Homo sapiens: one gene and its partner. The protein of the gene in region 1 purifies or fractionates together with the protein of each later gene. This does not show direct contact. Each region holds a gene or a part of one and is shown on either strand. Other genes may lie near its edges. The genes, in order: NRCAM and YTHDF2.

What was found.
Region 2: the proteins of NRCAM (region 1) and YTHDF2 fractionate together in Homo sapiens (co-fractionation; one large-scale study listed by BioGRID). This does not show direct contact.

What each region holds. Positions count from the first base shown.
Region 1 is NC_000007.14:108,449,858-108,453,684, forward strand, and holds part of NRCAM (neuronal cell adhesion molecule isoform A precursor), read right to left. Parts: intron 1-3,827. UniProt on the Homo sapiens protein: Cell adhesion protein that is required for normal responses to cell-cell contacts in brain and in the peripheral nervous system. Plays a role in neurite outgrowth in response to contactin binding.
Region 2 is NC_000001.11:28,760,696-28,764,522, forward strand, and holds part of YTHDF2 (YTH domain-containing family protein 2), read left to right. Parts: intron 1-3,827. UniProt on the Homo sapiens protein: Specifically recognizes and binds N6-methyladenosine (m6A)-containing RNAs, and regulates their stability. M6A is a modification present at internal sites of mRNAs and some non-coding RNAs and plays a role in mRNA stability and processing.

The DNA of each region.
Region 1 (3,827 bases):
CAGTGGAAGACCTCCTACAGGATTCCCTCAGATTGCCCTAGAAATAGATTTTTTTTTTTTCTGGTTACAGTGGGTTTTGAACCAACACACTATGCACATAATAAAATTTAAACATATATATATATTCAACATATATATATTCAAAATATAGTTTCCAGCCCTTCCTACCATTATTTAATGAGAAGAATTTCAAAAGGATCATTTTTGCCTGACAGTACCTGTCATTTTCATTCTCATGTGAATTAAACCATGTTTTAGTCCAGGGCAATATGGAAGAAATTCGGAGAGCACATAATACAAGTAAGATTCATCATTCCTGTGTTCGAACTGAATATGCCATTAGGACAGTATGTGAGTACAGGAGCATTAGTGGTTATAATTTGTTCCCTTTACCACTGGCTTTTTTTTTTTTTTATCTTCACTAGCTTCTTAGTCACTTGATGGAAACCCTCCATCAGACTGTTAAAAATTACCTTTTTCTAATTTGAAATTCCAATCTTGTAGGCCAGTAAAATAGGTCAATTAAGTTGACACCACATCTTTTTTATTAGCTCAGCTAAGCAATTATAATTGGGTGGTGAAGGTTTATGCTGTCATCTTGGAAGATTCAATGGTAGGGAGAAATGCCCAATGTGGAACTATAATTTACAATGCCAGTACATCCCTAAACATTCAGCATAAGAATATTTCTATTTTCAGATATGAGGCAAATTTGCTCTTGTTCTAGATTAAAATAATAATGCCATTTTTTGGCAGTAAAAAAAGCATATTTATTTAACTTATCCTCATAGCAAAATCATTTAGCACAAGTGTATTACAGACATAGGTACTTTAATTCAACATTTTAGAAAAATACCATGAATGTATGCCATCAATGCTGGCTTATCCTGGACTTGGACTACAACACATATGCTCCACAACATCAATTTCTTGCTTTGCACAAAGTATGTAATCAATTAATACTTGTTGAAAACCATATACCTCCATATTAATAAATGTTAAACCAATAAATTAGAAATGCTGTGAATGACTTGTTCAGAATATATAGATATTAATTTACAGCTTTAAAAGATAACAGTGGCTGGGCGTGGTGACTCACGCTTGTAATCTCAGCACTTTGGGAGGCCAAGGTGGATGTATCACCTGAGGTCAGGGGTTGAAGACCAGCTTGGCCAACCTGGTAAAACCCTGTCTCTACTAAAAATACAAAAATTAGCTGGGCATGGTGGCAGGTGCCTGTAATCCCAGGTAATCAGGTGGCTGAGGCAGGACAATCACTTGAACCAGGGAGGCAGAGGTTGCAGTGAGCCGAGACTGCAGCATTGCACTCCAGCCCAAGTGACAGGGCGAGACTCCGTCTCCAAAAAAAAAAAAACAAAGAAAGAAAAAAAAAGTAACAGTGATTGCACTTCAAACCTATTAGGATGGCTATTATCAAGAAAACAGAAAATAACAAGTGTTGGAGAAAATGTGGACAAACTGGAACCCCTGCGCATTGTTGGCAGAAATGTAAAATGGTACAGCTACTATGGAAAAGAGTATAACGATGTCTCAAAAAAAAATAGAACTACCATATGATCTAGCAGTCTCATTTCTGGGTATATACCCCAGAGAATTGAAAGCAGTGACTCAGATATTTGTACATCCATGTTCATGGCAGCATCATTTGCAATAGCCAAAAGATGAAAGTAACCCAAGTATATATGACATATGAATGGATAAACAAAATGTGGCATATACATACAATGAAATATTATTCAGCATTACAAAGGAAGGAAATTCTGACACATGGATCAACCTTGAAGGCACTATGGTAAGCAAAATAAACCAGTTACAGAAAGACAAATAAATACTGTATGATTCCACTCATATGAGGTACTTAGGGTCATCAGATTCATAGACTGGAAGTAGGATGTTTGTTGCCAGGGGCTGGGGGCTGAGGGGTTATGAACTATTGTTTAATGTGTACAGAGTTACAATTTGGGAAGGCAAAAAATGTTCTGGAGAGGTATAGTGGTGATGGCTGCACACAATGTGAATGTACTTAATGCCACTGAAGTATACACTTAGAAATAGTTTAATGGCATATCTTATGTCATATATATTTTACAATAAAAAACTTAGCAAAAACATTTTTTAAATAAACATATTGCATTTGCTGCCCCATTTAAAGACAACCTGATAATGAAGGATTTACAGTTGCTGACGCTGAAGGCTGAGCCATTCCCCTATTTCCTTCCTCAGGTAGCCTTCAATTTTAAGAGAAAAAATAAAAATTTGTCAATTCATTTTGGTACATCTTCCTATTCTTAGAAACTTCAGTCAAACTCATAGAAGCAGAGAGTAGAATGGTGATTGCTAGTGGGTAGGGGAATTGGGGAGATGAGATGTTCTCACCACACATACACAAATTAACTGTGTGAGGTGATAGATGTGTTTATTAGTTTGATTGTGGTAATCATTTCACAATGTATACATATATCAAAATATCATGTTGTACATATTAAATGTATACAACTTTTACTTGTCAATTATATCTCATTAATGCTGTGGGGGGGGGAAGAAACTTCAGCCTTTGATCCCAATAGAGGCTGTTTTAAACAGAAGGAGCTTTTCATTTGCCAAGGCAGTAAAATGTTTAAGTAAAATAAGTCACTGGATTTTTGCCCTTAGCATCCAGTTCTCTCCTCTGTCCTCACCTGCCAGGAAGGTTCCTGGAAGGGATGCTTCAGGTAGGGAAGCATAAAATTTTAAGGGAAAAGCATATCTAAATGTATTTAGTAATTTTCAAATCACTTCCTCTTCATCAATCATTGCAACAGCTGAAGACTGAAGTAAAGCAGTCTTTTGATTCAAATGCACAAAACTTCCTAAAGAATATGTTAGAAGCTCTACATTCCAGTTAAATTTGCTATGGGTTACCGAGCTTCTCAGATGGTAGGTACTCTTTGAAAATGAGGATGAGATTCCAATAGCTGCTGATCTATGGTGAGAATATAAGGAAAAAGCCTCAGTGCCTCAGTGGTTACCCTTTGGGGTGAGTAATGACTGGAAGGGACCACAAGAGGGCTTTCTCAGATGTGCATTACACTGTTCCTTGATCTGAGTGCTAGTTAAGTCAATGTGTTCAGTTTGTGCAAGTTCATCGGCTATGCATTTGTGATATGTGAAAAAAACTCTGTGTGATGAAGTATGTAGCTAGATGATAAAATTAGAATTAATCTTCCCAAGGACAGATATTCTGTTTGGTCACCACTGTATCCCCACTGCCTGGAACACAGTAAATATTTATTAAAGAATGAAGGAATGAATGAATGAAATCTTTTTAACGGAAAAGCTTCCTGTAGAGTTCCATTCAACAGCTCCTATGTACATACACAATATAATATCTGTAGAGTCTATTTATATTCAATCTGTTACACAGGGAAAATTACACCTGCATGAAAGCATTATTTGAAATGATTCTTGAAATTTTCTACAGCCCAGGTGTATACATTCTCAGGACCCCCTCACACTTCTGAAGCACTTACACCTAGCGATTATTGCCATCATTGTTGTATTGGCCTCACAGGAAGTACTATTTCCAAAGATGCTTTGCTTTCTATTCACTGTTACCGTAGCATTAACAAAAATGATGTGGTGTAAGGGCAATGGCCTTCAGTCCAAAGACCTCATCACTACCCTGCATTACGAGGCTGAGCCCTATTGCAGTTGTTTTGAAACTCGAAGGATTAGTTAGATACAATGTTGCCTGAGTCCTCTAACAGCTCTAAAATTCCTGGATTATGTAAAATGTTTAGCAACTTTCCTGTAATAAAGTAAAAAGA
Region 2 (3,827 bases), on another chromosome or scaffold:
TCAGCCTCCCAAGTAGCTGGGACTACAGCCGCGTGCCACTACACCCAGCTGATTTTGTATTTATGGTAGAGACAGGGTTTCACCATGTTGGCCATGCTGGTCTCAAACTCCTGATCTCAGGTGATCCGCCTGCCTCTGCCTCCCAAAGTGCTGGAATTACAGGTGTGAACCACTGCGCCTGGCCGAATTTGTTATTAAGTATTATTTATTATACATAATTTTACGTGCTATAGTTTTATACGACTTGCAGTGCGGTAGGTTTGTTTACACCGCATTACCACAAACAAGTGAGTAATGTTTTGTGCTACATCCTTACAGTGGCTTCGACATCGCTAGGTGATAGGAATTTGTCAGCTCCATTATAATCTTACTGATCTGTCATTGACTGAAATGTCATTATATCGTGCATGAGTGTGTGTGTGTGTGTGTGTGTGTATTTTTTTTTTTTTTTTTTTTTGAGAGAAGGCCTCACTTTGTCACCCAGGCTGGAGTGTAGTGGCCTGATCACAACTCATTGCAGCTTTGACCTCCTGGGCTTAAGCATACTTTTTCTTGCAGCCTTCTAAGTAGCTGGGACCACACAGGTGTTCGCCACTATGCCTGGCTAATTAAAAAAACTTTTTGGAGAGATAAGGTTTCACTGTGTTGCCCAGGCTGTTCTTGAATTCCTGGGCTTAAGTGATCCTCCTCCTTTGGCCTCTCAAATTGTTAGGATTCCAGGTGTGAGCCACCATGCCTGGCCTAATGTTTAAAAATTTCTGGCTGGTGCGGTGGCCCATGCCTGTAATCCCAGCACATAACGGAGGCCAAGGCAGGTGGATCACCTGAGGTTGGGAGTTCGAGACCATCCTGACCAACATGGAGAAACCCCGTCTCTACTAAAAATACAAAATTAGCTGGGCATGGTGGCGCACGCATGTAATCCCAGCTACTCAGGAGGCTGAGGCAGAAGAATCGCTTGAACCCGGGAAGTGGAGGTTGCGGTGAGCCGAGATTGCGCCATTGCATTCCAGGCAACAAGAGCGAAACTCTGTCTCAAATTCTAGTAGAGTCAGGTTCTCAGTATGTTGCCCAGGCTGGTCTCAAACTGCTGGTCCCAGCCTCCCAAAGTGCTGGGCTTGTAGGCAGGAGGTACCATGGCCAAAATAGATATTTTTAATAAAATATTATAGCCTTGCTTTAAATTGGAGAACTGATGAAAAATACTTTGTCTCTTTATCTGGGGGAAGTTAGCATCTTAATTATATATGACTTGATGTTTCATATATATATGACTTGAAGTCTAAAGTCAAGTCATTAGACTTATTTAACTTATTCACGGCATTGGAGACTATAAAGGTTGATTCTATTAAACCATATCAAGCAATGGAAGTAATTTTTGTGTCATCACATCACTTTTAAAAACACATTTTCCTAGCCGGGCGTGGTGGCTCACGCTTGTAATCCCAGCACTTTGGGAGGCTGAGGCGGGCGGATCACGAGGTCAGGAGATCGAGACCATCCTGGCTAACACGGTGAAACCCCGTCTCTACTAAAAATACAAAAAATTAGCCGGGCATGGTGGCGGGCACCTGTAGTCCCAGCTACTCGGGAGGCTGAGGCAGGAGAATGGCATGAACCCGGGAGGTGGAGCTTGCAGTGAGTGGAGATTGTGCCACGGCACTCCAGTCTGGGCAACAGAGCGAGACTCTGTCTCAAAGAATTTTAGAATGAGACTCCGTCTCAAAGAATGACTCCCGTCTAAGCATTTTATATTGTCAGCTGGGGTGCTGAACTTTGGGTTTCTTTCAAGGTTCATGGGGGCATAGGAAAAACTAGTTGAGAGCTATATAGATTTAATTTTGTGGGAGAGATAAACATTTACCAGATTTTAATGTTAATAAAATTATATCCAGGTGAATATGAATATGCCTCAGTTGTGTTTTATGGCCCACTTGAAAGTGAAGGGAGAGGGAGGGATAGAACAGTGCAGTAGTAAGTAGAAAGGTTATTAAGCTTAAATAGAGGGAAGCTAAATAGGCAGATTTACTGTTTTTGAATATTATATGAAGAGATTGCATATGTGCAGACTTTAACATTGCCACCTTATGGCTTTTTGTATATTTCCTCCAGAGACTGAATTTTCTATTTTATTTTATTTTATTTTTAATTTTTATTTTTGAGACAGAATCTAGCTCTGTTGGCTAGGCTGGAGTGCAGTGGCGCGATCTTGGCTCACCCGGGTTCAAGTGATTGATTCTCCTGCCTCAGCCTCCTGAATAGCTGGGACTACAGGCATGTGCCACCACGCTTGGCTAATTTTTGTATTTTTAGTAGAGATGGGGTTTCACAATGTTGGCCAGCCCTGTCTTGAGCTACTGACCTCAAGTGATCCACCTGCCTCGGCCTCCCAAAGTGCTGGCATTACAGGCATGAGCCACTGCACCCAGCCGAGTTTTCTATTTTGTAATCATAGATTTAAAGTGAGGAGGGCCTAAGGTGGATGGGTGGATAGAGATGTCGACATTATTTCTAGTTATTTAAGCCACAGACCAGATCTGTCTGGACTTGTAGTTTCCTAATTTATTCATAGTTAATATCTTTAATGTTTTTATTTGAGACAGAGTTTTGCTCTTTTGCCCAGGCTGGAGTGAAGTGGCGTGACCTTGGCTCGCTGCAACCTCTGCCCCCTGGGTTCAAACAATTCTCCTGCCTCAGCCTCCTGAGTAGCTGGGATTATAGGTGCCTGACACCAGGGCTGGCTAGTTTTTTATTTATTTTTAATTTTTATTTTTTATTGAGATGGAATCTCCCTCTGTTGCTCAGGCTGGAGTGCAGTGGTGCGATCTCAGCTCAGTGCAACCTCCACCACCCAGGTTCAAGCGATTCTCCTGCCTTAGCCTCCTGAATAGCTGGGACTACAGGTGTGTGCCACCATGCCCAACTAATTTTTTGTATTTTTAGCAGAGATGGGGTTTCACCATGTTAGCCAGGATGGTCTCGATCTCCTGACCTGGTGATCCGCCCACCTCAGCCTCCCAAAGTGCTGGGATCACAGGCGTAAGCCACTGTGCCCAGCCAATTTTTTTTTTTTTTGGGATTATGGGCGTGAGCCACTGAGCCTGGCCGACAATTTATAATTGTATATATTTATGGGGTACAAAGTAATCTTAATTTTTTCAAAGAACCAACTTTTGTTTTTTTTTTTCCTATTATATATACTTTAACTCATGCCAGCTCATATCTTTATTATTATTATTATTTTTTAAATTTATTTATTTTATTTTTTTTTGAGACGGGGTTTCTCTCTTGTTGCCAAGGCTGGAGTGCAGTGGTGTGATCTCGGCTCACTGCAACCTCCATCTCCCAGGTTCAAGCGATTTTCCTGCCTCAGCCTTCCTAGTAGCTGGGATTACAGGCATGTGCCACCACGCCCAGCTAATTTTGTATTTTTAGTAAGAGACGGGGGTTTCTCCATGTTGGTCAGGCTGGTCTCGAACTCCCGACCTCAGGTGATCCGCCCACCTCGGCCTCCCAAAGTGCTGGGATTACAGGCATGAGCCACTGTGCCCGGCCCAATTTTTTATTTTTATTTATTTTTATTTTTATTTTTTTGAGACGGAGTTTTGCTCTGTCACCCAGGCTGGAGTACAGTGGCGCGATCTCAGCTCACTGCATCCCCTGCCTCCTGGATTTAAGCAGTTCTCTGCCTCAGCCTCCCAAATGGCTGGGATTACAGGCGCCCACCACCACGCCCGGCTAATTTTTTTTTTGTTTTTTTTAGTAGTGGGGGTTTCACCATCTTGCCCAGGCTGATCTTGAACTCCTGACCTCGTGATCCACCCACC